Linked DNA regions of Homo sapiens. The protein of the gene in region 2 purifies or fractionates together with the protein of the main gene of each other region. This does not show direct contact. Each region holds a gene or a part of one and is shown on either strand. Other genes may lie near its edges.

The links.
Region 1: the proteins of KIAA0930 (region 2) and GPR85 purify together in Homo sapiens (co-immunoprecipitation; one large-scale study listed by IntAct). This does not show direct contact.
Region 3: the proteins of KIAA0930 (region 2) and MCCC2 purify together in Homo sapiens (co-immunoprecipitation; one large-scale study listed by IntAct). This does not show direct contact.
Region 4: the proteins of KIAA0930 (region 2) and DMXL2 purify together in Homo sapiens (co-immunoprecipitation; one large-scale study listed by IntAct). This does not show direct contact.

The regions. Positions count from the first base shown.
Region 1 is NC_000007.14:113,082,341-113,090,364, reverse strand, and holds the start of GPR85 (probable G-protein coupled receptor 85), read left to right. Parts: upstream 1-3,537; 5' UTR 3,538-4,043; intron 4,044-4,197; exon of another isoform or gene 4,198-4,255; 5' UTR 4,256-4,373; intron 4,374-5,473; 5' UTR 5,474-5,643; coding exon 5,644-6,756; 3' UTR 6,757-8,024. UniProt on the Homo sapiens protein: Orphan receptor.
Region 2 is NC_000022.11:45,195,895-45,203,372, reverse strand, and holds part of KIAA0930 (uncharacterized protein KIAA0930), read left to right. Parts: intron 1-188; coding exon 189-383; intron 384-2,353; exon of another isoform or gene 2,354-2,419; intron 2,420-3,337; coding exon 3,338-3,500; intron 3,501-5,424; coding exon 5,425-5,583; intron 5,584-6,156; coding exon 6,157-6,197; 3' UTR 6,198-7,478.
Region 3 is NC_000005.10:71,653,173-71,660,083, forward strand, and holds the end of MCCC2 (methylcrotonoyl-CoA carboxylase beta chain, mitochondrial isoform 1 precursor), read left to right. Parts: intron 1-3,570; coding exon 3,571-3,688; 3' UTR 3,689-5,534; downstream 5,535-6,911. UniProt on the Homo sapiens protein: Carboxyltransferase subunit of the 3-methylcrotonyl-CoA carboxylase, an enzyme that catalyzes the conversion of 3-methylcrotonyl-CoA to 3-methylglutaconyl-CoA, a critical step for leucine and isovaleric acid catabolism.
Region 4 is NC_000015.10:51,482,142-51,489,619, reverse strand, and holds part of DMXL2 (dmX-like protein 2), read left to right. Parts: intron 1-974; coding exon 975-1,072; intron 1,073-1,500; coding exon 1,501-1,666; intron 1,667-3,282; coding exon 3,283-3,547; intron 3,548-7,478. UniProt on the Homo sapiens protein: May serve as a scaffold protein for MADD and RAB3GA on synaptic vesicles. Plays a role in the brain as a key controller of neuronal and endocrine homeostatic processes.

The DNA.
Region 1 (8,024 bases), on a different chromosome or scaffold from region 2:
ACAATTGCTTCAAAGAGAATAAAATACCTAGGAATCCAACTTACAAGGGATGTGAAGGACCTCTTCAAGGAGAAGTACAAACCACTGTTCAATGAAATAAAAGAGGATACAAAGAAATGGAAGAGCATTCCATGCTCATGGGTAGGAAGAATCAATATCATGAAAATGACCATACTGCCCAAGGTAATTTATAGATTCAATGCCATCCCCATCAAGCTACCAATGACTTTCTTCACAGAATTGGAAAAAACTACTTTAAAGTTCATATGGAACCAAAAAAGAGCCCGCATCGCCAAGTCAATCCTAAGCCGAAAGAACAAAGTTGGAGGCATCAAGCTACCTGACTTCAAACTATACTACAAGGCTACAGTAACCAAAACAGCATGGTACTGGTACCAAAACAGAGATATAGATCAATGGAACAGAACAGACGCCTCAGAAATAACGCCGCATATCTACAACTATCTGATCTTTGACAAACCTAAGAAAAACAAGCAATGGGAAAAGGATTCTCTATTTAATAAATGGTGCTGGGAAAACTGACCAGCCATATGTAGAAAGCTGAAACTGGATCCCTTCCTTACACCTTATACAAAAATTAATTCAAGATGGATTAAAGACTTAAACGTTAGACCGAAAACCATAAAAACCCTAGAAGAAAACCTAGGCAATACCATTCAGGACATAGGCATGGGCAAGGACTTCATGTCTAAAACACCAAAAGCAATGGCAACAAAAGCCAAAATTGACAAATGGGATCTAGTTAAACTAAAGAGCTTCTGCACAGCAAAAGACACTACCATCAGAGTGAACAGGCAACCTACAAAATGGGAGAAAATTTTCGCAACCTACTCATCTGACAAAGGGCTAATATCCAGAATCTACAATGAGCTCAAACAAATTTACAAGAAAAAAACAAACAACCCCATCAAAAAGATAGTTAAAGTTTTAAAGAAAACTTTAAAAAGGCTCTTTTTCATATACAACTTTAAATTTTGGTAACAGTTGAGAGCACCAAAGACACACGTTTTATGCTTTAAGCAGAAGACATGTCATTTGAAATGAATTACTAAAAATCTTTTATTTAGAATGTTTATTCTAGTCTATTATTCTCTGCAATTACCAAGTGTTATTTCCTGACACACACTTTCATGTAAACAATGCACAGAAAAAAACACTGTTTTTGCTGATCATGATACTATGCATCAGTTGGCAAAAATCTGAAATAGATTAATTTTGAAAGCAAGGTCATTGGTTTTTAAAATAAAATGGTATGTACTTTTTATAAGAACCAAATTAAGCAAATTATATCAGTTTTCCTAATACACTGATCAATATAGTACATGTAATATTCCAACAGTTTGTAAATCTTCAGAACCCTTCAAACCCAAGGATTAGAGCATATAGTTTTGTTGTATTTGCTTTGTTCTTTTACTCTTAACCTGAAAATCAAATTTTCTGGGTTTGGTGATGTAGGGGATAAAAAAAAAAGAAATTAGTTAAGACCAACTAAGCCTATGATCTAAACAATTTGAAGCAATAACTTTACATTTGAGAACTTGTAGATGATATGAAACTTTTGTCAGCTATTAAACATATTTTTTAAAGCCCTGCTGATGAAAGATGTAGCTTCCAATGTTTTCTCCAGTAGAGTTAATGAGCTAGATAGAAAATATCTCATTAATTTCTTGAGTCCCCTTGTGAGGCAAGAAAATGACATTCTTATCCAACAGCTGGAAAAGCTGAAGAATTAGTGGATGTAACTGTGCTCAACTGCAAAGGAAAAAAATAGCTTTACTATACCCTGAGATGTGGATATGAAAGAATATTGCATACACATATACCCTCTCCCTTATTTTTAAGGAATCAATATCTGCTTAAAGAATAAGACTAGTTAAAACCCTTGGATCTTGGCCCTATAACTTTTGGCAGAGTATATTACTGCTTCATGGCCTGGCAGTGCAGTGACTCTTTTAATTTACTTTAAAATAGCTTTTCCCTAATCTGTACAACCTAACATCTGACCAATCATGAATCTTCAGCAAACTTAAGCCTCTTATTCCATACATTTTTTAAAACTGTAAAAATTCAGGAAATAACTCTTTGCAAAGTACATTGAAGCATTTATTGGGAAGCAAAAAAGCACAAGTTGAAGTGATTTGTAGTTTCATAAAAACGAATTTGACATTTTACTTAGAAGTTGCAAACCACCACATGGTTTTGAGTTTTGAATTCATTTGCTTTGCAAAAAGTGGAATGTTTTATTTGAATGGAAATGCCCTCAAGTTACTTCCAGCATGGCTGTAGGATTGATTTTTCTAGGTTAAGGGAATGCCAAAGTTTAGTGCCTTGTGTATATTCTTTTCGAAAAAAACAAACTATTATCCATGTATTTAAATGGACGTAGGAAATTCAAGAACAAATCAGGGAAATTTAACATCATTTCAGTATTACCAACATAGGGCTTTGTGTAACGACTGTGACATCAAGATAAGGCTTTACCTCGGCTCATCCAATAGAAATACAGTATGTAAATTAACCCATATTATCTGTATGCTGATTGGCCTGAGTTCCCCTGAATGTCACAATCTCACCACCCAGCAATGAGGTATTTTACTGCTGTCTCAAGATCAGATTATTACTGTAGAGAAGATTTTTATTTTTTGTTTCATTAACAGATTATTATAAAGCAAAAAGCATGCAGAAAAAGAAGCAGACGTTTTACATTGGGAATTAATGAAAGCGTGTCTGCTAGTTTTGGGTAGGAGAACTGGGAAGTTGTTGCTTAAAATTTTATATCACCTCCACAAACAAAACTCTTCGGAAATGGTAAAATAAGAAAATGCATGATTCTAGAGGCATTCCTAAGCACCCACGTGTCAGGCTTTGTGGTGTCTGTGGTATCATCCGACCGTTTGGACTGGTGTAAGTTTTACGTATTTGTTATATTTCTAGTATTTTTCATCTGTAATAACAAAGGGGAAAAAAGGAAACTCGTACACATAACTGCTTTGACATCACCCATCATTGGTCAGCGGAACTTGTAAGAAGGGAAAAGGAATACTGTTGCTTGGTGGGGTGGAATGCCAGGAATAGCCATTTAAACATTTTATAAGCCTGATTCTTTAGTGACATCCTTTAAGGTAGACTGAATGTAAATCATATTGTAGTTGTCCTCTGAACTTAGCTTTCTCCCTACTTTTACGCATATTTGCGTGCATTGGAGAATAGAAGATGACTAACAAAGAGAGAGCTGCCCTAACGTGCCTTCCCTTCTTCCCCATTGAAAAGATTTTTAACTGTGGGAAAAAGATAAATAAATAAATAAATAACTTTTTTTCTTTTTTCCCATTCTTTTCTTGTCTTTTTCCAGCTAACCTGCAAATTTAAAGGTTAGCTGGAGACATCACTTAAAAATAAATATATAAAAGAAGCCTCCGGTGGTTTGGACCACCCTAAAAGAAAAGGGAAGAAAGTGTCTGGGGAAGGTTAGGGTTCCGGGAAGCTGAGGGAGGGGGCGGGCGTCACGGGCACTGTGACTTCCTCGTGCGCTGCCTTTGGGAAGAGGATGGGCCTGAGGTCCTGAAAGGGCCTTTCCAGCCCCCCACTACAAATGCGGGGAGGGAAAAGTTCAGAAGCAGCCACGAAGGGACAAAAGCTTAATGCTGCCAGTTGGATTGGACAGGGCAGTCAATAAACCCAGCCAGCTCTGGAGTCAGGTAGGGGTTCCTGCTGGTTCCACAGAGGCTGAAGCAGCCCCGCCGCCGCCCTCGCCACCGCAGCCGCCGCCGCCGCGGCCCCTGCGTTACTGGGGGAGACGGTGCCGCTGCGACAGGGGAGGACGCGGCTGGAGCTCAAGGAGGCTCCAGCGCGCAGGCGCCGCCGAGCCCTGCCTGGATGCTCAGTCAAGGCACTAAGGCAAAAAAAAAAAAAAAAAAAACAAAAAACAAAAAAAAAAAAAAAAAAAAGAAAAAGAAAAAAAGAAAAAAATCAGCAATTTATAGAAAGAAGCTATAGTCTGTCGGGATATCCAACACCAACAGGTAGGAGGATATACTCTTGGTTAAGTTTGGGGGATGTGGGGGAATGCACAGTGTTGATGAAACTGCAGGTTCACCGAGAAAGAGCCCTCCCTCAGGTTGTGTGTGTGTGTGTGTGTGTGTGTGTCTCTGTGTGTGTGTGTGTGTGTGTGTGTGTATGTGTTTTGTGACAATAAACTGCATAATGGAAGTACATTCAGACAATGCATCTTCAGTAGGGCTTACTGAGAGCTCCATTTCTGGAAAGCCTTACAAGACTGAGGAATATCAGACTGCGAATCACCGGGAACGGTTCCTTTGCAGCACAGAAGCAATCTCTCTCCCCATCTTCGCGTATGTAATGCATGTCTCTCTCCCTCTCCCCCTCCTCCACCCTCCCCCCATTATAAATCCAGGGGTGGCGGATTTCAGGTTTCGTAATGTTGCATGATGCGATCGGTATTTACCCGAGGATGTACCGGTGGGGAAATTAAAATCATCGAACGCAGTTTTGCCTGGGCTTCCACCAGCATATTCCGGGCCAGTGAGAAGTGGCAAAAGAAACACGCTTGGTGGGAATAACAGAGGAAGCCGATTTCCCTGGTGTGGTCCAGGCACCTGCGAGACAATGTGCATTTTGTTTTAAAAAGCAGCCACTTGTGATTTGCAACAAAGGTTATCAGTGTAAATGGGAAAGGCTTAATTGCCCAAGAAATACAGGTTCATGTTATATTCATTTGAATCCAGGCAGCCAAGGTTTACAAATGGAAGTGCATTATTCCTCTGGGTGTGTTTCCCTGTCCAATATTTACATTAACCATTTTAATAATCATGTGGGCTTAAAAGATTTGCCAGAAATGGGGGGTAGGGTGGAGAGGGAAAGACAAATGATTAAATCACATCAAATCTTGGGACAAGTAAGTTCCTATTAATTTTGAAGTTAATTTTGAAATTTTGCTTTAAGATGAATCAACAAATACTCTTATGCAGCATGAATAGTGGCACTTAAGATATATTTTGCACGGGTTCTTTGGACCCACATCAAACAGAGAAGCTGCCTGTGAAACACTGACAGATACTAATAGATCTCAAATAAATGTAGGTAGTGTCTCTGCCTCCTAATAGCAATCTTGTAGATTCCATTGCAATTCTAGTGGTTAATTCCTGGACTGGCATATTTTACAAGAATGGGACATTTTATTCCTTCTCTCCTAAAGTTACCCTATCAAATGTATATTGTCCAAAATAGGGACATTTTAAAATTCACTTAGCTTGAAAAACTAAACAAGCCAATTCTCTGAAATCTCGAGCAAAAATATTTAGTAAAGCAAATATTAGTATTCAAAATTAAAACTTTATTTGCTTCCCCATAAGTGAACAGCTTTGTTAGCACTGTCTGACATCATTGCTTGTTAACTTAAGAACTGATAGGTTTTTTTTTTTTTTTTTTTCAGATATTCTGATGGCAAAACAAGTGGAAGAAAAGAGGAAGCATGACTGCAGATCAGATCAGTTCTCTTTGTGGATTATATTTTCAGTAAAATGTATGGATCTATCTTTTCCTTGTTCTTATATCTAGATCATGAGACTTGACTGAGGCTGTATCCTTATCCTCCATCCATCTATGGCGAACTATAGCCATGCAGCTGACAACATTTTGCAAAATCTCTCGCCTCTAACAGCCTTTCTGAAACTGACTTCCTTGGGTTTCATAATAGGAGTCAGCGTGGTGGGCAACCTCCTGATCTCCATTTTGCTAGTGAAAGATAAGACCTTGCATAGAGCACCTTACTACTTCCTGTTGGATCTTTGCTGTTCAGATATCCTCAGATCTGCAATTTGTTTCCCATTTGTGTTCAACTCTGTCAAAAATGGTTCTACCTGGACTTATGGGACTCTGACTTGCAAAGTGATTGCCTTTCTGGGGGTTTTGTCCTGTTTCCACACTGCTTTCATGCTCTTCTGCATCAGTGTCACCAGATATTTAGCTATCGCCCATCACCGCTTCTATACAAAGAGGCTGACCTTTTGGACGTGTCTGGCTGTGATCTGTATGGTGTGGACTCTGTCTGTGGCCATGGCATTTCCCCCGGTTTTAGACGTGGGCACTTACTCATTCATTAGGGAGGAAGATCAATGCACCTTCCAACACCGCTCCTTCAGGGCTAATGATTCCTTAGGATTTATGCTGCTTCTTGCTCTCATCCTCCTAGCCACACAGCTTGTCTACCTCAAGCTGATATTTTTCGTCCACGATCGAAGAAAAATGAAGCCAGTCCAGTTTGTAGCAGCAGTCAGCCAGAACTGGACTTTTCATGGTCCTGGAGCCAGTGGCCAGGCAGCTGCCAATTGGCTAGCAGGATTTGGAAGGGGTCCCACACCACCCACCTTGCTGGGCATCAGGCAAAATGCAAACACCACAGGCAGAAGAAGGCTATTGGTCTTAGACGAGTTCAAAATGGAGAAAAGAATCAGCAGAATGTTCTATATAATGACTTTTCTGTTTCTAACCTTGTGGGGCCCCTACCTGGTGGCCTGTTATTGGAGAGTTTTTGCAAGAGGGCCTGTAGTACCAGGGGGATTTCTAACAGCTGCTGTCTGGATGAGTTTTGCCCAAGCAGGAATCAATCCTTTTGTCTGCATTTTCTCAAACAGGGAGCTGAGGCGCTGTTTCAGCACAACCCTTCTTTACTGCAGAAAATCCAGGTTACCAAGGGAACCTTACTGTGTTATATGAGGGAGCATCTGTAAATCTTTAGCCTTGTGAAAACTAACCTTCTCTGCTGAGCAATTGTGGCCCATAGCCATATTTTGAGAAGAAATTCAAGAATGGAATCAGCAGTTTTAAGGATTTGGGCAACATTCTGCAGTCTTTGCAATAGTTCACCTATAATCCTATTTTAAATCTCAGAGTGATCCTGCTGACTGCCAGCAAAGGTTTGTAATTAAGAAGGGACTGAACCACTGCCCTAAGTTTCTTTATGTGGTCAAAAACTAGATAATGAAAGTAGCAGGTGCTAAGTATCAGTGCTAAATGCTCTGTATGTCACTACATATGAAAAAACATCAAAAAACAATTAGCATTGGACATCTTAATAAATTAAGTTGACATGAGGTAAATGTGTTGATAAAAACTAATTTTAGAAGTTTGAAGACTTTAAAACATTTCATACTACTATTGTTTTGCAAAGACTAAAATATTTGGGGACTTAAAGTACTGTAATCCACTAAAGACGTGCCAATGAATTATTGGAATATCACACTTTAAAAACCGCCTTGTAAGTTCTGGGGAGCATTCCAAAGCAGTATATTGGTTCCAATTAGAGTTTACTTTTTTTGTATTAATACATTGCTATTTCTAAATACCACTTTCCTCATCTACTAGTAAGATTGCTAGCATTGAACTGTATTATGTGGTTTTTGTTGATTTGGTATAAAGTTTTTCCAATTCATTTATATTTTACAAATGCTAGATATTGGTCTGGGAGGCAACATTAATGGTACCAGCCTGTCACAACTGAGCAGTTCTAATAATGCAGAATAAATACATGTTGCCTTAAAGGGTTATCTAGTATCCTTCATCTTATTTAGCACTGGAGCAAATAGCCAAGGGAAATCAAATCAGTAACTGGTCATGGTCATGCATCTAAAAGTGCATGGAAGATCATTTATTACTTTTTCCTTTTTTCTCACATGGTTTGAAACTTAAAGTGCACATCACTGAAATAATGAGATTTTCTTCTACGGTGTGCTACCCTTTCTAAACTGTTCTAAGAAGCAGGCAGTTGATGTATGTTTATATTTTAAGTCAGCTGTCAAGGGGAGACCACAGCCTTAGTATGACATCCTGCACAATTTGTGAAGCATTTATTCTACTGAAGGCACAGTCTTGTTTATACTTTCTGCACATTCAGTGTATTGGTAATTTAAATTATTTCAGTTTTAACTTGTGAAAGCTTATATTATGATTTCTGGTATTTTAGAAATACATTAGAGTCTGTGAGT
Region 2 (7,478 bases):
GCACCAGGAGGGGCACCAGGCAGAGATGTGGGTCCATTCCAGCTGCCCCGCCTGCCAGCTCAGACGCTCCCTCCCGGGCAGCCCCCGCTCCTTGAGGGATGGTCGCCCTGGCTGTTCATGTCCTGGGGAGGGGCCCCATGGAGCCATCGCCACCTCCCTGACTCAGGCTGCCCCGCGCCGGCCCCCAGGTGAGCGTGGCCGCCCGCATGGCACAGAAGATGTCGTTTGGCTTCTACAAGTACAGCAACATGGAGTTTGTGCGCATGAAGGGCCCCCAGGGCAAGGGCCACGCCGAGATGGCGGTCAGCCGAGTGTCTACAGGTGACACATCCCCCTGTGGGACTGAAGAGGACTCCAGCCCAGCTTCGCCCATGCACGAGCGGGTAAGGGCTGCACAGCTGGGGGCGGGGGCTCCCATCCGTCAAGTTCACTTTCCACCGTCTCCCCCGTGCTCACGGCCCCCTGGGGACATAGGTGTTGTCATCCCCAACCACCAGTGCGCAGGCCGAGGTGCCGAGCGTGCGGAGGCCCGGACCACCCAGCCCTTCTCTTTGCCTAGCGGTTTGTAGGAGGCACTGCCGCAGGGGAGGCGTTCCTGCCTTGCAGACCTGGAGGGCTGTGCCTGGCCAAGGTCACACCGCAGGCTGGTGCTGGGCCAGAGCTCTTTCTGCCTCCCTGAGATGCCACAAAGCCAGGCTGAGTCCACAGAGCCAGTGGGCAGAAGAGACTGGCTGGGGACCCAGGCCCGGCCCTGGCGCCTGCCTGGGTGGACCTGCTGGGTGAGCGTGGGCACGTGGCCGGCCTTCCCCGGTGAGTCAGATGGGGATGATGGTGACTGAGGGTCAGCCAGCGCATGCAGAGGCCTAGGCCACCCAGCTCTTTGCCCCGCGGTTTGTAGGAGGTTCTGCTGCAGGAGAGGCGTTCCTGCCTCGCACAGCCGGAAACCAGACTTGCCAGCTTGCCCCAGGTCACAAGGTCTCTTGGGATAGCACTGGGCTTGGGGCCCTGCTCTGCCTAGGCCACTCTCCTTCCCCAGGGCGGGAGGCTGAGGTCAGCAGCAGCTTTGTTCCCAGAAGCCTTTGGTGGGGCACAGGCAGGAGAAGGTCTCCAGCCCACTGGCTGCTTTGCTCTACCTGGTTCTTCCAGAGGGACTGCCCAGAGCTGTAGTTCTTGGAAGAGTACAGGTGTGCTGGGCAGGGGGGTGCCCTTGGCACAGGTCCAGGGGCAGTCTTGCCCAGCCATTGTCCAGGAGAGACGCCACCCACAGCCAGAATCCTGCTCTGCTGCTCTCATAACCTTGGGTGTGTCTCTTTTCCTCTCCAAGCCTCAGTTTTCTCATCTAGAAACAGGGCACGAGGATACCTGCTCCTTCAGTATTTGGGAGGCTTTGAGGAATCCGGGGCTTGGCCCTCAGGAGGATTCCCAGGTGGCAGCTGCAGTAGTTGCTGTTGACCTACTTGGAAAGCAGAGGCGTGGGAATGTAAACGATGCATTACCGCAGGCATGCCTGAGATGAGGGAGTGTGCGTTTGTTATACTTTTAGTTCGAGAAAGATCTGAATCATGCATATCTCCGGGTGGTCAGATGTTGGTTTTCTTTCTCTTCTGTATATCTTTTTTTGGGGGGGAGGTATCTTCTGCAATGAATGTGTTTTGCAAGCCAAAGACAGCAAGTGCTATTTTTTGCAAAGATGGGTGAGAATTCCAGGCAGGGGCCTCTCTTGTCTTTGGAATGAGGTGGTTTATATTTCTGAGTTTGTTTCCGAGATAAAGGGCCTGGTTCTTCTCCCTGGTCCTAAATTATGCCCTGGGACTCTGACAAAATGTGTGTGTGAAAGTCCTTACGAAGATGTGGCCCGAGCTCTGGGCTGGACAAACCCGGGTGCCACCTCCAGCCACAGCCTGAGGGCTGAGTGACTACAGGTCACTAGACCTGCCTGAGCCTTGGTTTTCCCATCTGTCCAGCGGGAGTGGCTGTGAGGGGTGTGAAAGTCCCTGGTGCCTTAGCAGCTGGGCAGCCCTGGGATTCAGGAGGAGGGATGTGCTAGGGTCACACAGGGTCAGCAGCAGGGCTGGCCCCTGGGGACTGCCGCCTGTGCGCCTGCTATTACCTGTCTCCTTCTCTGGCGGGGTCGTCTGGAGCCAGTGCGTGACACATGCTGACTCTGTGTATTGTGGTTGCTGCTGTTTGTTTCTTTTATCTTTTAAAAACCTTCCCCGGCTTGTGGGAACACCGTCTGGAGCCCAGCAGCTGCCAGGACTTTGGTGGATGTCGGAGCCGTGACGAGGAGGCTGACGGGGCTCCCGAAGTCTCAGTCCCAGCTCATCCTGCTCCTCAGATTATTGTTGGCATGGGGAGGAGGGAGGAGATGGGCCAAGTTCCCTCTGGCTGGAACGCCCTTCCCCCCCTTCTTCACCTGGCGAACTCCTACTCGTCCTTCAAGACCCAGCTCCAGCGGCATCTCCTCCAGGAAGCCTTCCCTGATTTCCCAGGCTGTGGATCCCTTTTGCCTCTGTGCTTCATGTATCCTGTGCTTCTCTTTCTCTGTCTCCACAGCCAGCATGCTGTCTATGGTTGTCACTCTCTGAGTCTGTCACCCCAGCAGACTGTGAGCTCCTTGAGGGCAGGGACCTGCAATGTGCCTGTCTGTCCTTAGTGCTGTGCCTGCCTGGCCCTGAGTGGGTGTGAATGTTTGGTGAACAGAACCAAACGTGATTAGAAGTGGGGAGAAGACAGAGGCATAGAGCTACTTAGCACAGTATTTCCTGTGAAGGGTGCTGGGAATGAGAGGGATGGGGCCACGTCAGCCCTGAGAAGTAGGATGAGGAGCGTGGCCCTGGGGGACAGAAGACAGGGCTGCTGCCGTCCTGCTTGGTGACCACAGGCAAGCCAGGGTCTCGGTCCCTGCCTTAGTTTCCCCATGTGTCAGATGGGCTGACGCTAGCCCCTGTCTCACGGAGCTGGAGGCTCAGAGGGTCTGTGTGTGGGGCCAGTGCTCACTCAGCGTCAGCAGCTGTTGTTACTTTGTGCTTGAACACCCCCTACCCACTGTTTGAGGCCCAGAGGAGGGGGGTCTTTCTGCCATTTGCGGCAGCAGCCTGGCCCCTCCTCGGGTAGCACTGGTGGCCAGGTGTCCTGCTGGCCCCTGGGCTGGAACGCATCTTCCAGTCTCTAGGCCCCACCTAGCACGGGCCGGCTGGGCCTGGGTCCTCCTGGGCCAGCGGCCTCTTCCCTGGGAGCTGTGTCAGGTTGTTTGAGGGTGGGATAGGAGGGGCGTTGGGACCCCCGGGGAGGGGGCTGTTCTGCTACTCTGGTGACTTTGGCTGCTTGTTCCCAGGTGACCTCCTTCAGCACACCCCCCACCCCAGAACGGAACAACCGGCCTGCCTTCTTCTCCCCATCCCTCAAGAGGAAGGTGCCCCGGAACCGGATCGCTGAGATGAAGAAGTCGCACTCGGCCAACGACAGCGAGGAGTTCTTCCGGGAGGACGACGGTGGAGGTGACCCCCCACTCCGTGCCCTAGGGTCCCCGTGCCCTTCAGTCTCTTCTTGATCCAGACCAGTCATTCATTCATTTATTCATTCATTCATTTGTTCATTCAGCAGCACTTAGAGAGTGGGTGCCATGTGCCAGGCAGCCCTCCAGGAGCTGAGGGGTAGAGCTGGGGACAGGCAGAAATGGCTGCCTCTGGGGGTCCCGTCCTGGTGGGCTCAGGCGTCTCCTTGGCAGAGTGCTTGGAGCGCAGATGTGCAGCAGTTGGTCAGTTTCAGGGGATTTCCCACCTTTCTAAGGCTTTTCAGCCTGCTTAAGGAAGAAAGCGGATGGGTGATCTGATGGCTCCGCACACACGGGGTGTGGCGGGAGAGAGGAGGGCTTCCCTCCCTTGCGCTGCCTTGGGCCAGCTCGCCCTCAGGGTGAGGCCTGGCCCTCCTGGCTCTGTGCAGCCTCCCAGAACCACGTGCTCTTTGGTGACACAGTCGCCACCTCGTGCAGCCTACCCCCGGGGCCTTCCTGTGCCCCTGTCCCCTGGACTCCGGTTGTCTGTATCTGGGTGTTACCATGCCCCTTAGTCCTGCCCAGGCACAGTCTGCACTCTCTCCTGAGCACCCGTGCCTGCTCCCTGTCCTCGCTCAGTGACCTTCCAGAATACAGGAGTTGTTCCCAGAGCCCCCAGGGAGGCCTCTGAGGGGTTTTAAGCAAGGGAGTGACACAATCAGATTAGCATATTTAAAATGCCACTCAGCAGTCTCTGTGGGAAATGGCTCCTGGGGACAGGCGTGGCCGTCACAGACAGGTTGGGAAGTTCTGCCATGCTCTGCTGGCATGGACCACGTGCCTTCCTCACTGTCATCCTCAGGACCCAGCGGGCGCCTGGCTCCGCACTGTGTGCGTGTCTGTTGAGTGTATGGAAGTGAAGGATTGGCCAGGCACAGTGGCTCACCCCTGTAATTCCAGCACTTAGCGAGACCGAGGCGGGTGGATCACCTGAGGTCAGGAGTTCGAGACCAGCCTGGCCAACATGGTGAAACCCTGTCTCTACTAAAAATACAAAAAATTAGCCGGGCATGGTGGTGGGCGCCTGTAATCCCAGCTACTCAGGAGGCTGAGGCAGGAGAATCTCTTGAACCTGGGAGGCAGAGGTTGCGGTGAGCCGAGATCGTGCCACTGCACTCGAGCCTGGGCAAGAGTGAGATTCCATCTCAAAACAAACAAAAAAAAACGACGTGAAGGATTCGCTGACAACTCCCACTGAGCACCTCCCCCAGCAGGGAGCAGGGCTGCAGCATTGATCAGAAGAGGTGGCAGTCTTTGTCCTGACCACTGGGACCAAGAAGCAGGGGTGTCCCACCTGCTCAAGGCCCTGGCCTGGGTCAGGGACTCCAGCACTGGCCTCGACCTGCTCTTGTGTGAACTTGGGCAAGCCCCTTCCCCACCTGGGCCCGTTCCCGAATCAGTAAGAAGTACTGATCACTGCCCTAGTCTGCCTCTCTGGGGCAGGTTCCCCCAGCCTGGACCGCAGGACTGGGTAATGGTGCAGGTCGGCTCAGCCTTGCTGCTCCCATGCTCTGCAGGTGGCGGTGCCTAGTTCCAGGGACAGGGCCTGCAGAAGCAGAGAATTACACAGTGTGTGTGCCAGAACCCCCGGAGGAGACTAAGCTTGTGACAGAGAAGAGAGAGATGAGGGGGGTGGCCAAAGTCTTCCTGGAGTTGGAGGCCTGGGTCTGGGCCAGAGGAAGCAGGGAGGGGTGTTACAGGCGAGGAGGCAGCAGCTCTGGAGCGTGTGGGTGCTGGTGTGGGGGTGTTGGTAAGGAGCGTCCTGGCCTCAGCAGAGTTTGGCCTCAGCCTGGACTGGGAGCTGGCCTCCTGCTGCTCCCGCCGCGTCCCATGCTGTGGGGGCCTTGACCTGGCCTTCTTTCCTCCAGCCGATCTGCACAATGCAACCAACCTGCGGTCTCGGTCCCTGTCGGGCACAGGACGGTCCCTGGTCGGGTCCTGGCTGAAGCTGAACAGAGCAGATGGAAACTTCCTTCTCTATGCACACTTAACCTACGTCACGTTGCCGCTGCATCGGATTTTAACAGGTAATGCTGGCGGATGTGGGGAAGCAGCCGCACCTTCTCACAGCCAGCTCTGCCTCCAGGGCCTTGGTACTTGTGAGCCACCCGGAGTCATCCCGCCCTGTCCTGTCGGTTGGTTGGGTTTCTTTGCAGGGCTCTTGGCCTCTTTGTCTCAGACTTTGGGTGGAGCCGTAGCTTTCCCAGAGCTGAAGTCCTCCCTTTGTTCACCTTTCTGGCGCACCTGCTGTCCCCTCTTGAGTGGCCACAGATGCCCAGGTGTGTGTTACTCACGGGCGAGGGGAGGCTCTCAGGCCACCTCGCTGACCCAGGCCTGCAGCAGCTGTGACAGGCAGTGGCTCTGGCCCCCACACCAGCTTGCACCTGAGGCCCTGCAGGGTGTGCCGTTGCTGCGAGCCCATTTCCCAGTCTGCAGGGTGAGGATGGTGGAGACACGTCTCCTCTGCAGTCTGTGAGGCCTGGAGAGGAGATGCATGAGTGGCTGAGGCGGGCTTCCTTCAGAAGTGGCACTGCCGTGACCATAGCACTCACCGCTGTTGAGGGTTACTGTTTCACCTGCTTCCCTCCTGCCGGCCCTAGACATCCTGGAAGTTCGGCAGAAGCCCATCCTGATGACCTAGCCGCGTGCGGAGCCTGCGCAGAGCCCCGGCCGGGCCCAGCCCTCGGAGTGCTGCCAAGTGCCTACCTGTCCACCGCCACCGGGGTCTGCGATGGCACGCCAGTGCTGGAGCCGCAGCCAGGCGAGGCCACTCGACTCCCGGGGCCGGGGCCGACTCCACGAACACCAGCCCAAACTGAAGTGCCTCTTCCCTCCCCTGCTGGCGCTGCTCCGCCCTGTGCCCCCCGCCCATCGCCCCCCACCCATCTCTGGAGAGCCCTCTGCACCCAAAGAGGACTAGAGATGCCGAGCGGCCATGAGAGAGAGCGGAAGGAGCAGCTGATGCCCAGAGCGGGGCCAGAGCGGCGGGTCTATGTTCACGTCCCCCCAGCAGCAGGCGGAACCACCCAGCCAGGGCACTCAGTGCATTGGACTGTCCACATGTTCTTGAGGAAAGCCGGTGGAAGATTCTGGAATGCCGTGCGGATGAACTTCAGCACCCGAGTCAGTCCCAGCTCATCCTCCCCAGTTTACCACTTTGTTCTAATAGGAGATGGGAACACGAGAAGTTTGATGGCTTTGCCCTGGGCTGGGAATACCTCACCCACGCCCAGTTCCAGAAAGGCCTCCAGCTGAGCAGACGGCCCCGATCCCGCCAGAACGGCCTTTTGCTTCCAGCCAAAGAACACCGCCAACACGCACACCTCCAACCTGGGACATCCCACGCTGGGCCTCGCACGGAGGAACCTGCAGAATTTGGATTCTGAGGGTAGTCGGGAGGCCTCGGTAGCCAGGCAGAACAGGATATCTGCCAAAGGGTGTCTGATGTGGGGTGGGGCTGGCATCCTCCCAGGAAGGTTCTAGGTGGGACCCCGTCTTCTGGGGGCGGGGGTGTCTTTTCATCTTCCCTGGTTTCCTAGAACTCACTTCCTTTGACGGCGTGTGTTGGTCCCATCTCTCAGACCAGCTCACTGAGGCAGAGGAGTTGCTCAGAGGCTCACATGGGCACCCCCATTGGTTCGTGTGAGCAGCTGCCCAGCCCCAGGCCTGCCCTCGGCCTGGTCCAGCATGAAGGCGTTTCCATCTGCAAGGATGCACGGTACCCTCCCCGAGAGCAGGCCTGTCCCCTACCCAACTGGGAATAAACTGGAAGCTGGGTCTCTTTGTTGCTATGTTTTTTTGTTTGAAGTTCCCAGGAATATTTGAGGGGTTCCGGTGATGTGTTTAGGGATCTTCTCTGTGGGGGAAAAGGAAGAGGAGGGTCTTGTTCTCCCATCTGTTTATTCTTTGGGCTCTGGGAACA
Region 3 (6,911 bases), on a different chromosome or scaffold from region 2:
GATTGGTTGAACACTTACTGGCATTTGTTGACAAGTATGCTTGTACGTTTGAAAGGTGATTAGTCACTGCCAGGGTCTGTGTGTCGGCGCCAAATAATTACCTCACAGACCATTGCCGCTGTTGGCTCGGTTTTTTTCTTACACCACTTAATGAGGTAATAAATTATCATGCCTGTCCCAGCTGAAGACCTGCTGGTGCCTGCTTTCACATCTTTCTTCAACAACTTTAGTGTTCTGCATTCCGAAGACTAATCTAAGCTTCATGTCTTCCTTTCATCCCTTGGGCAGATGGAAAAAAGAAAGTAACTCTTTCTGCATCTTGTAAAATTAGCTTATGTTGTAATTTATGCTGGCGAAGGCAAACTGGAGAGGAGAGGGGAGAGAAAAGAAAATCAGGCCAGGCACAGTGGCTCACACTTATAATCCCAGCATTTTGAGAGGCCAGGGCGGGCAGATTGCTTGAGCCCAGGAGTTCGAAACTAGCGGGGCAACATGGTGAGACCCAGTCTCTACAAAAAATATACAAAAATTAGCCAGGCGTGATGGTGTGCACCTGTAGTCCCAGCTACTCAGAAGGCTGAGGCAAGCAGATCAGTTGAACCTGGGAGGTCAAGGCTGCAGTGAGCCGAGATCATGCCACTGTGCTCCAACCTGGGTGACAGAACAAGGCCCTATCTCAAAAAAAAAAAAAAAAAGCAAAAGTTAGAGTCCATTACAATCATTTGAATGGTTCCTTGGTGGATACAAAGACAAAACATACTGATTTTCAAGAACATAATTAGTTTGAGGAGATAAATAATACCATTTGGGTGTGTGTATGTGTTTTTGTTTTTGTTTTCTTTAAAGACAGAGTCTCACTCTGTTGCCCAGTTTGGAGTGCAGTGACGTGATCTCAGCTCACTGCAATCTCTGCCTCCCGGACTCAAGCAATCCTCTTGCGTCGGCCTCCAAAGCTGGGACTACAGACATGTGCCACCACACCTGGCTAATTTTTTTGTATTTTTTGTAGAGATGGGGTTTCACCATGTTGGCCAGGCTGGTCTTGAATGCCTGAGCTCAAGTGATCCTGCCTCGGCCTCCCAAAGTGCTTGGATTACAGGCGTGAGCCACCTGTAATCGTGGCTGGCCAATATTTGGGAATTTTTAAAGGTTTTTTGCTGAATATATATTTTTACAAACAAATTTACAGGTATATTTTATTGTGGTGGTTTGATTCATTTAATTAAGAACAAAATATTTTATAGTCTTTGAGAGCTAAACATGTTCCTGATTTTATCATCGTGTAAACAGACATATAGTAGCCAGTAAATGGAAAGAAGCAATAGAAAGCCGTATAAGAGGTTTGAGATGAAATATAAAATATATATTGTTAAGCTTTTCTATAGTTTTTTTTTTCCACATAAGATTTTGACTGAAATACACAGGGACAGCTGAAATATTAAAGTTTGAAAAATTGTGTATTTTGTGTGAGCTGTTAGCTTGTTTTTCAGCCCTGGCTAAGATAAATCATCTCTTGAGAAAGATTGCATCTTTTATTATTTTCATACTAACATTATTATTATTTTTTAATGGATTACATTCAAGGCAGAAGAGTAAATGGCCCAGAGAGACTTATCTTTGGAAATAAATGTTAACAGACAGTAAAGTTTTCTGTGGATCTGTAGATTTTTTTTTTTTTTTTTTGAGACAGAGTTTCTTGTTGCCCAGGCTGGAGTGCAATGGCATGATCTCGGCTCACTGCAACTTCCGCCTCCTGGGTTCAAGGGATTCTCCTGCCTCAGCCTCCCGAGTAGCTGGGATTACAGGCGTGTGCCACCACGCCTGGCTAATTTTGTATTTTTAATAGAGATGGGGTTTCTCCATGTTGGTCAGGCTTGTCTCGAACTCCCAACCTCAGGTGATCCACCCGCCTCGGCTTCCCAAAGTACTGGGATTACAGGCATGAGCCACTGCACCTGGCCAGATCTGTAGATGTTTAACCCTTCTGTTGAAACAGCTGGTGGCATGGAGACAGCAGCTTTCTTTCAAAGCTGAAAGGATTTCCAAGCCAGTTTATGGTACCTTCCTTGGGTTTAGTAAATCTCAGCTTCACAGTAAAATTCCCTGGCCTGCTTAGGTTTGAACATGGCTAGATCTGTCTTTTCAGAGACAGAGCTTGTTATTATCAGTTACTGAAACCTACAATGTTTTCCTTAATCCTAATAGGTTACATATGTAGCGTGCCAATTTGCTTCTGCTCAGTTGTTTTTATAATCAAACTTTTATCCGGCATTTCATTAGTGCCTCTTACCTGGGGCAGTCTTTTTAATGAACATTATTAAGCAGCCCCTTCATCACCATGCTTGCTGTGCTGCAGGCTTCAGAGGGAGTGTAATCAATTCACCTGGTTGCAGATGACAAGAGTGGCTTTCTTTTTATTGGGTGTTGATACTTTAGGGTCCCTATTATGAATGTTTTATGAGCAAAGGTTTGATTCATGTCTGTCAATGTAAGAATGGTTTAATAGTTGATGCCAGGTTCAGATACCGAAGGGAGTTTATATAAAAAAAGCAAACTGCCACCTACTAATAACCTTTAAAAAGTAATATTTCTCAGTCATTTTTCGTTATACATTTGAGGTTGTCAATGAGAAGGAAACTAAAATTTCTACTTAAAAGTTTCTTCTGCAAGCAGTTTAAAGTTATTGTTTTTCCTATTGTAGCAAAAAATAAAGACCTACATTTGAAGGTATCTATTTTATTAATAAAATGTACTGAAGCTGGCCGGGTGTGGTGGCTCACGCCTGTAATCGCAGCACTTTGGGAGGCTGAGGTGGGCGGATCACCTGAGGTCAGGAGTTCAAAACTGGCCTGGCCAACATGGCGAAACCCCGTCTCTTCTACAAATACAAAAATTAGCCAAGTGTGGTAGCGCACTCCTGTAATACCAGCTGCTAGGGAGGCTGAGGCAGGAGAATTGCTTGAACCCAGAGGGCGGAGATTGCAGTGAACTGAGATCGTGCCACTGCACTGCACTCCAGCCTGGGTGACAGAGCGAGACTCCATCTCAAAAATAATAATAATAATAAATAAGATAAAATGTACTGAAGCCTATTCAATAATTTTCATAGTTTCTTAAGAGTTTGGATGGGGGTTGGGGAATATACATTTTCCAGTAAAGTTTGAGGTTATTACCTGGGTATATGTGGTTCTGCATATTAATGACAGAATACACCAACTTGGCTTATATATTTGTGTGGGAAGAAAAGGAATAGGAAAATTTTTCCTGAAATAAGTAAACGTATTGTCAAATTAGGGGTTACTTTGAGATCTCTTATAAAAGTAGTTCCTTAAGCCTTAAGCCTGACATGACATTCTGTGGTGGCCTGGGATGAAGGTCATATCATTTTTTTCCACGTTTTCCCCCTCTGTCTTGAACGTAGTTTCTGTTGTGAGATTATGGTACATGGATGCTAATCAGTAGATCCATATATTACCTGAAGGAAAACTTCCTTGGCATTTCTGCACATGGAGAGTGTATAAATGGTAGTTTGGTGGTAAATTCATAACTCTTTTTTTGTTCTTTTGTCAGGGTATGGGATGATGGGATCATTGATCCAGCAGACACCAGACTGGTCTTGGGTCTCAGTTTTAGTGCAGCCCTCAACGCACCAATAGAGAAGACTGACTTCGGTATCTTCAGGATGTAACTGGAATAAAGGATGTTTTCTGTTGGACATGTACTGAAAATTAACACATGTAGTAGCCTTAAAATTTTAGACTTCTCGAACATGAGGCTGTTACAGTAATTTTTTTAACACTGTGCATTGTACTTTTCTACCTTAAAAAAATCAGTGAGGATATTTATTTAATGAACATCAATTCCTTTTAAATTTTCTTAGAGAAATTTCTCTGTGGCTCAGTTTTACCACCCATAAAGCGGAGACAGTAATTTACGGTTATCCTTTCTGACCCACAAAGTATGAAAAGTTCTGTAATCTGTAAACTCAGTTCTGTAATCTGTATTATTGAGATGATTAATATAAAGTTGTATTTTCACTGAAATGATTGTTTTGCTGGTTATGCTTGGTGATATTTTAGCGGGCTTATTTTTGAAAGGCATCTGTTACTTCAGTGGCATAAAGTGCCCTCACACTGCTGTGCAGCCATCACCACCATTCATCTCCAGAATTTGTTCTCAGTCCCAAACTGAAACTATACCATTCAAACAACAGCGCTCCCCATTTCCCCCTCCCCCGAGCCCATGACATCTCCTTATTATTATTTTTTTTTTGAGACAGGGTGTTTCTCTGTTGCCCAGGCTGGAGTGCGGTGGTGTGATCTCGGCTCACTGCAGCTTCCACCTCCCGGGTTCAAGCGATTCTTGTGCCTCAGCCTCCCAAGCAGCTGGGACTATAGGCACGCACCACCACACCCAGCTAAGTTCTGTATTTTTAGCAGAGACGGGATTTCACTAGGTTGCCCAGGCTGGTCTCAAACTACTGACCTCAAGTGATCCACCCGCCTCGGCCTCCCAAAGTGCTGGGATTACAGGTGTGAGCCACCGCGCCTGACCACATCTCCTTATTCTTAAATGTATGTGTTTCTCATGGTTTGATTTATTCTTGCTGGGCCATTTCAGCCCCTGTCATGGCTTCACTCGCCATCTAAATGCAGATGATTACTGCCTTGACGGTTCTTAACCCAGCTCTCCCCTGAGCTGCAGGCCTGCATATCCAGTAGGTCTACTGGACATCTGTACTGGTTGTTGTGGAGGAACCTCTGGCTTGCTCATTAAGTCCTACTGATTTTCACTATCCCCTGAATTTCCCCACTTATTTTTGTCTTTCACTATCGCAGGCCTTAGAAGAGGTCTACCTGCCTCCAGTCTTACCTAGTCCAGTCTACCCCCTGGAGTTAGAATGGCCATCCTGAAGTGAAAAGTAATGTCAGATTACTCCCTTCAGTGATTTCTTGTAGAAGTGCCAATCCCTGAATGCCACCAAGATCTTAATCTTCACATCTTTAATCTTATCTCTTTGACTCCTCTTTACACCGGAGAACGGCTCCAGCTGTTCTAGCTCTCTTTCAGTTCTTTGAACCTTCCCACCTTAGGGTCTATAAGGTTCCCTCTGCCCAAATTGTTCTACTCTCCCTTCTTCTTCAACACATCCTTCAGTTTAAGCACTTGCTTCTCTCAGTTTAAACTCCACTTCCTTAGGGATGTCTCTGTGACCTCCCTGTGCTGGATTAGCTTCCCTACTCTATGCTCTTGTAAAACACTATCTACTTCCTTTGTCATAAACTCATCATTTTCCTATAAACATTAATATTGTCCTCCTGCTAGAATGTAAGCTCCGTGAGAGCAAGGATCCTCCTGTTTACCCTGTACCTCCAATGTCTGGCACTTGTAGGTGCTCAAATATTCGTTGAATGAATGAAAAATCCATATTGTAATTGATGTCCTCTGGCCACATAGTTTTAAAATTAGGTGATTGATTATATGACCGAATAGAACTATCAAATGTTTTCCTAATAAAGTCAATATTTCAAACATTTGTGTGTGATATTTAGTATTTTAAACATTTGTGTGTGATGTTCAATGTGTACCAGGAAGTCAATTTAGTTTTTGTGGGGAGAATATAGATAGATGATCAAATTCAGTGGTAGGTTACATTTTCAGAAGCAATACATTAAGTATATTAAAATAGTAATATTAAAATTTTAATGAAAATGCACATCTATGTCAAAATGATTTTCTATATAAAGACTAGGTAATATTCCTTTGGTAGGAACCATTAACAAGTCAAGGATTCATGGATATTTTAGGACTGCTTTTGCTTTTCTGGGAAGAAACTGTCCATCAATAAAACCACATTTAAGTGAATTGGATTTTTTAAAACTTATTTTTCTAGAGGCAGGGTCTTGCTATGTTGCCCAGGCTGGACTCGAACTCCTAGGCTCAAGCAATCCTCCTGCTTCAGCCTCCCAAGTAGCTGGGACTACAAGCTTGCACCACTACGCCTTGCTCTATTTTGTATATTTTACCCAACAATAAACATTTATAATTGTCTTACCAAAATAGGTAATACTTTTTAAACATTTTGACTATCATAAATATGAATTCCAGCAAGGATAATATGAGCTACTTGGAATTTGAAGAAATATACAAGTTAGTCTCTAAATTTGCCCCTGTTGGTACTTAAAGAATGAAAAAGACAAGATTACTTCTATTTTTCAGTTTATAAGAAAAGTATTTTCAAATCGAATTTGTTAAAAAAAAAAAAACACTTCTGCACCAGCAGAAGGCACTATTGAGTGTTTGAGTGACACCATCATTTGCCAACATGCTTATGTGTATGTCTCTCCAGAGAGAGGCCATATGTTTCCTTCACAGGGATAAATCAAAGCAGGTTTTGGAATGATACATTAATAAGATTATTTTTGAGAGGCCACATTAGTTCTAAAATGCATTGAGTTTGGTTTTATGGAAGATTAAATCTCCACTAAGAGTCTTGGCGATTTTTTTTTTCTTAGTGATCTTCTAATGATTGGTTCTGAAGTTTCATATATGGAAAAATGGCAAGAAGATGAACTAGGTTATCATAGCCTAGTGTCATTCATAACATTTCCCTTAAAATGTTACAATTAAGTACAATTAATATTTAATGATGACATAGATTTTAATCATTTTCGACAAAACGTTTTGTGCCTTTCCACTAAACGCTTAAAAATAGTTTGTTTCAGCGGGGCACCCTGGCTTAACACCTGTAATCCCAGCACTTTAGGAGGGTGAGGCAGGAGGATTGCTTGAGCCCAGTGGTTGGAGAACAGCCTGGGCAACATAGCAAGACCCTGTCTCTACTTAATAAATAAATAAATAGGTAAATAAATAAATAGTGCTTTTATTTTATGTGCTTCAAATTCTCTTGT
Region 4 (7,478 bases), on a different chromosome or scaffold from region 2:
GCAATGGTGTGATTTCGGCTCACTGCAACCTCCTCTTCCTGGGTTGAAGCAATTCTCCCAACCAGCCTCCAAGTAGCTGGGACTACAGGCGTGCGCCACCATGCCTGGCTAATTTTTGTAGTATTAGTAGAGACGGGGTTTCACCACGTTGGCCAGACTGCCCTCGAACTCCTGACCTCAAGTGATCTGCCTGTCTCGGCCTCCCAAAATGCTGGGATTACAGGCATGAACCACTGCGTCCGGCCCGAGAGTAAAGCATTTTCATGATGTAATTTTAGATGTCTTTTCCCTTTCTCCCATACCTTAGTATTATAGCTTCCTGCTTTGCCATCAATGTGAGCTAATTAATAAAACATCCACTGTTGTTTTGTCATTATGCCTTTCAACTTAATGATTTGCAGAGGCTATATCTCAGCATCTTGGAAAAATAAGGTATGGCCTATATGCTCTTATGTTTAAGACAGTATGATTGCATACAATATAACATGTTGAATTTTCAAGAAAAAGCTCACATCTATTGAATATTCTGCCTTCTTTATTGCTTTCTATGTTAGTTTCAGTTCTACGTGGTTTCTATTCCCTTTTCTAACCCTTACTGTGTGACTGTAGGCAATTCACTTAACCTTTCTGTCTCAGTCACTTTATCTATAAAATGGGAATAATGATAGTGCCTCATGGTTTGTAGTGATGCAATAAGATAACAAAAGGTGCATAGACTCGTGCCCAGGACGTGGTAAATAGTCAATAAGTGCTGGCTGTAATTAGGATTTTTACCATAATTACTGGCTTGCGAATGGTTATCTCTAGGAGCATGTATTAATATTATAACCTACTGGAGATTGTGAAACAGAACCAACTTTTTCTGTCTCCACAGTTTCTATCAGCCATGGAAGTAGCAGGGGAACATTATTGTTGATTAATTGATTGTAATTCTTATGTCAAATTGTGAATTTAATATTTTATTTATCATTTAGGTTGCCAAAGCTTCTTTTCAAAGGAACAATGATGCCTTAGATGCTGCACTATTCTACCTTTCAATGAAGAAGAAAGCAGTAGTGTGGGGTCTGTTTAGGTAAGTTGCCTTGACACTTAACGTGATTCAACAGAATGAAGATTGTGCTGTGAGTAAGAAACCTAATGCTTTTGAAAATAATTAGGTATATGAGCTTCATCAAATCCACTTCTATGCGACCTGGTTCCTTTAGCTGAAAAAAATGGGTAAAATATCTTTTCAGCTTAATCTAGAGGATGGGATGTTTTAAAAGTTGATAAAAGCACTTTGCAAAGTAAAAAATGCTGTTTCCTATTTATGTATACATAAGGCATTATTGACCTTCCTTCTTAGAAGAAGTGAAGAGATGCTTGATAACAAATGCCTGTCCTTGAAGTTATTGTTCTTCTTTTAGATTTCTGTTTGAGGTTTTTATTTTATATTATTATACATTCTGTAGAACATTTTAAATTTGGTTTAACCACTTTATGTTTATGCTCGGTCCCCAGGTCACAGCATGATGAAAAAATGACAACATTTTTCAGCCACAACTTTAATGAAGATAGATGGCGAAAAGCTGCTTTGAAAAATGCTTTTTCCTTACTTGGAAAACAACGCTTTGAACAATCGGCTGCTTTTTTCTTGCTAGCTGGTTCATTGAAAGATGCCATAGAGGTATAAATAAGAAAACACACTATATAATACTTGTAAAAGATTGAAAACCTAAGAAGGTTGTAGAGGAGATTGTAACTTTTGGTCATATGTTTGTTAGGACACAGAATAACTACAGAGGTTGCTGTACTTAAAATAGTGGCACTGTGGTAAAGGAAAATATGAATAAATTCAAGGGAGAAACAAATGAAAAATTTCAGGCTGGGCATGGTGGCTCACGCCTGTAATCCCAGCTCTTTGGGAGGCCAGGGAAGGTAGATCACCTGAGGTCAGGAGTTCAAGACCAGCCTGGCCAACATAGCAAAACTCTATCTCTACTAAAAATACAAAAATTAGCCAGGTGTGGTGGCACATACCTATAGTCCCAGCTACTCGGGAGGCTGAGGCAAGAGAATCACTTGAACCCGAGAGGCGGAGGTTGCAGTGAGGTGAGATTGTGCCACTACACTCCAGCCTGGGCGACAGAGTGAGACTCCATCTCAAAAAGAAAAAAAGAAAAATTTCATATATGGCACATTGCATTTCAAGACTATGTGTAAAATATATGAAAAAAATGCTGAAAAATAGTTTATGAATGTCTTCTTCCAGACCATCTTGTGATTCTGAACTGTTTAAAGTACATAGGTCACAACCTCCTTATTCTGTGCAGAAAGGCAGATACATTAAGCTGTTTTTTTAAATGAAATTCATAAATAAGGAACTGAAACTCCAGTTTGTACTGTTTTATAATAGTTTATAATATTAGAATATTATATTAGAAAACGATGTGAGGAGGTAAAACTTCCCACTTTTTGATATGTAATCCTAGCAGCTGATTATGAGAGTAATTACAAATGTTTGTGTTTACTTCTGATATCTTCCTCTTAGATTACTATCATGAACAATATGAACAGGTAAAGGACAAATACAGTTGGGAATAATATATGATAGAAAAACAGGAAATATTCAATTAAGTGAAAGTACTTTAGTATTTTAAATTTAGAATTAGTTGGGTTTTTTTTTACAATTATCCCAGGCATATGAGTTTCTTTTTTTAAATAACAAATACTTAAGATTTTAAAATTGGAAGTTTAGCTTAGAAGATATTCAAGCAAAGAGAAGTGTTGACTGAGAGATGCTCATATTGCCTAAATGACCTCAAATGCTCAGAACTGGTAGTTGCATTAGAATACAGGCTCCCAGAGACTATGAATAGAACATATGGCTGTATTTCATAATTTATTTACTATTTAAATATGAGGCAGATAGTAATAATTATGATTATGCAGAAATATGTTTGGAAATTAAGAGGAAGTGGTATATAAATTCTAGTGTCATATATAGTATTTAATTTAAAAATGAATGTTATTTAAGTTGATCTTAAGTCTGAGATGATATTAATATACTTTGTTTCATGCTTATTTTATAAATGATCTGTCTAGTTTGGAAGCTACTGGGTTCCAACCTGTTACTCTTTTTGCTATTCTTTAATCTCCTATCAATCATTTAACTACCCTTCACTGTCCCTTCGCCCACCATTAGGATATAAATGGTAGATAATTTCAGGGTATTGATGGGATATTTCATCTCTCTAAATAATTATCATTAAGTAAGATAAGTATTAATATTTAAATTTGCAGGTATGTCTTGAAAAAATGGAAGATATTCAGCTAGCCATGGTTATTGCCCGTTTATATGAATCTGAATTTGAGACTTCATCCACTTATATATCCATCCTAAATCAGAAGATTTTGGGTTGCCAAAAGGATGGCTCAGGATTCAGTTGCAAAAGATTACATCCTGATCCTTTCCTGCGTAGTCTTGCCTATTGGGTAATGAAAGATTACACCCGAGCCTTGGACACATTACTGGAACAAACACCAAAGGAGGATGATGAACATCAAGGTAGGACGTTTTGTGGATTTCTTTTTTTTCTTTTTTAAAGGAAGAGATACTTTCTGAACTAATGTTCACTTAGATTAAGAAAAATCATTACCAGATTTGCTTTTCAACTTTGAGAATTTATTATTAAAATTTCTTGTGTGTCTAAAGGATTAGATAGGATTACCATCCTATTCTAATTACGTATATATTTAACAAGCATACAAAATGTTTGCCACATTCTGTAGCTCTTTTTACATAATCATATAGCCATTTTTTTTAAATGGAAATTTTGGCTGTTACACGTATTGGTTTGTCACATGGGCCTGGAAAAACTTTATGCCTCTGTGGTAAATTTTCTTTTTTCCTTGTTATCCTAAATAATTTAGATATTACAAGCACTTAAAGGATATTTATCAGCATTGTTTTCAATAATTTGAAAGGAATGGAACATTTTAAGTTTTTGTCAATAGAATAGTTAAATACGTTTTAATATATCCACATATAGAAACAGTGTGTCATTAAAAATTGAGGTAGATACATATGTTAATATGTGCTGTATTTTTAAGTGAAAAAAAGTAAGATGCACAGCAGTGTGGTTCTTGTTGCATTTGGCATATGTATGTTGTACAAACATGCACCTGAATGTGCACACATGTTATGTCTGCCTCCTCCATTTCCTTTGGTTGTTTCCTGAAACAAATCATAAGAAATGAAATACTGGTCATTGGTCACTGGCTACCTTTTGGGAATAAAAATGAGGAGATCCTTGTCTTTGACTTTTGACAACTTGACCATGTGCCTTGGAGAGGATCTTTTTAGGTTGAATCTATTTGGGAGTATTTGAACACCCTGGACCTAGATGCCTATCTCTTTCCCAAGACTTGGGAATTTTGGGCTGTTACTTTATTAAATGTGTTTTCCTCACCTTTTCCCTTTTCTTCTTCTTCTGGAATGCCCATAATATGAATATTTGTTTACTTAATAGTGTCCCATAAATCCTGTAGGCTTTCTTCATTCTTTTTTTTCTGTTCCTCCTTCTTCCTTTTTTTTTTTTTTTTTGGTTTGCCTGAGTTATTTCAAAAGACCTGTTTTCAAGTTCAGAAATTCTTTCTTCTGCTCGATCTAGTCTGTTGTTGAAGCTCTTGATTATATTTTTTATTTCATTCATTGAATTTTTTAGCTCTAGTATTTCTGTTTGGTTCTTTTGTATGATATCTATCTCCTTGGTGAATTTCAAATTCACATCATGTATTCTTTGCCTGATTTCATTTAGTTGTATATCTGTATTCTTTTGTATCTGAATGAGTTTCCTTAAGACTATGATTTCCTTAAGAATTATTTTTCTGGCATTTCATGTTTCCTTGTGACTAAGGTCTGTTACTGGAGAATTAGTATTTTCCTTTCCATTCTTTTCCTTTGGTGTCATATTTCCTTGCTTTCTCATGGTTGGTGTGTTTCTACATTGATTTCTATGTATCTGGCAGAAAAAGTTGCCTCTTCTAATTTTATGGAGTAGGTTTCATAGGGAAAGACTTGTTACTATGAATAGGTCCTGAGGTGTTGGTTTGGTGGAGTGCATTGGTTAGATGGATACAGTAGTGTAGTCTCCATGTAGCTTCTTCACCTGTAATCCACATTAGTGGCATTTGCAATCCTCTCAGTTGCCTAGGCTGAAAGAGTTTGCGGTGATGGCCATGTAGCTTTGCCAGGTGGGCTCGCTGGGCAGTTTTTCAGGTTGGGGTGCATATGTGCACACAATGGGTCAGCCAGCTTAGGGTCTGGTTGGCTGGGATTGGGGCCACAGGTCTGTTACTCTGGCCAGGAGTGTGGGTACATGGTCACTTGGCCAGCCTGGAGGTGTGCCTGCCAGAAGCAGCCCACAGGGCTCATATGTGGCCTCACGGCTACTCAGCTGGCCTGGGGTTTTGTCTGTTAGGGGTGGGGATAAGGCTATTTCTCAGGCCCATGACACGATTGCATGGCTGCTCAGCTGGCCTGGGGGTGTTTCTGCAGGTGTTGCCCATGGGTTATTTGTATACCTGTGATGCAGGTGCAGGGCTGCTCAGCTGGTCTGGTACTATGTTAGCTGGGGTGGCAGTGAGGCTGCTCCTCAGGCCTGAGGTGTGGGCATAAGGCTGCTCAGCTGGCATGGGGGCGTTTCTGTTAGGGGCTCATGGGGCTATTTCTCAGGTCTGAGACTGGTGCAAGGCTGTTCAGCTGGCTAAGGGGTGTGCACACTGGGAGCAGCCTGCAGGGCTGTTTGACCAGGCTGGGATGTGTCCACCAGGGATAGCCCACAGGGCCGTGGAAGTGGGCTCTTGGCTGCTTGGCTGGCCTGGTGGTGTGCTGCCAGGGGCGGCTCGAAGGACTATTTCTCAGGCGTTGATTGCAGGCGCAGGGCCTTTGGCAGGCCAGAACTCTGAGTGCAGGGAGCAGGGGCGCTGCACGCTGTTTCTGAGGTCCTGAGTGTGGGCATGTAGCTGCTTTGCTGGCCTGGGGGCATATCAGCTGCTCGTAGGCTTGGAGACCTCTCCCATTTGGGGGAGGGTATGTATGTAGTGGTTTGGCTGGCTCAAGGGCAGGTTCACCCTGGGCAAGACTGCCAGATTGTTTCTCTGACCAAAAGTGTGATGGTAGGGGTTGATTTCCCTGCCATGCAGGACCAAAGTCATAGCCAGTCATGGTCCTAGGCTCTGCATAGCTGGGATTGTAGCATTCAGCTACCCATGTAGGCTTGGAATGAAGACGGGTCCCCAGTGTTGGAGAGGTACAGTGACTCCTGGCCCCCAGAGCAGTGCGCATGCCAGAGGTGACTGGTCTCAAGATAGTGCTTGTGCTGCAGCAGCTTGGCTCACTGGCGGTAGGTGGAGGGCACACACCTTATGCTCCTAATCTGGGTCAGTGCCGTTGCGTGAACTTCTGACGTCTCTCCAAACTGGACACAGGGCTTGCAAGTACTATGGGATTCTTCTGTTGTAAGGACTGTAGATGTTTGTGGTGGCCATGAGGGCTGATGGGGATCTTCTGTTTACCTTTTCCCCTCTGCAATGAGAAGTTCTTCCTGACTGTGGGCAGATCCAGTCTGGGTGGGGGAGATAGGGCTGCAGAGGCCGGGTACCTCCACACTGCTCTCCTAGACTTGCAGTCACCACAGGTGCATCTCCACTCCCCTGCTGCACTCTAGTGCTCTCCCTTTGACACTCCAGTCAAATCTTAGCTGTTTATTCATTGCCTTGGTCCTTTCTTTTCGGAGGATGAATGCCAGGTGTGTCTAGCAGCCATCTTGCTGGCATCATTCTCTTGGTTTATTTTTATGGATGCTCAGATTGTTCTTTCACAAATGGGAACTTCTTCAGGTTTCTGAATTCTTCTGGCATTATTTCTTGATAGTTTTCTTGCTTTCTGGTACTACAAAATGTTTAAGGGTCATCTTGTACATTTCCTGCCCCAGACCTGGAAATGACCATTCCTCCAAAGCATTCTGCTTCCTTTTAGTGGGGAATAATATTTAGAAACTATAGTTTGGGCACCAGGATCCTCATTGGTACTAATCTTGTCATAATTTCTAGACTATTGCAATGAATGGAATTAGGAAATTTTTTTTCCTTAGAATTTAGGAGTTTACCCTGCTATTTCTCATGCACATATAGATTATAGGGTTCTTTCTTCTTAGATGTTAAGTTTGTGTCTTATAATGAAATGTTTGGATTCTCATGGCATGAACATAGTTATTTGCTATCTATGTGCATATAAGTTTCAGAATAATAATATAGATATTTTTATAATAACATGATTCTGAACATAATTTAAGCTTTTTTGCAGAATTTTTTTGTTTTATGGTACATTCTGCTAAGGATGTACAGTCAAATTACTTGTTTTTAACTCACTTTTTAGAGTTCATCTCTGTGTGATTATGCTACCAACTTGATAGACTGATTTGTTTAATTTTGCC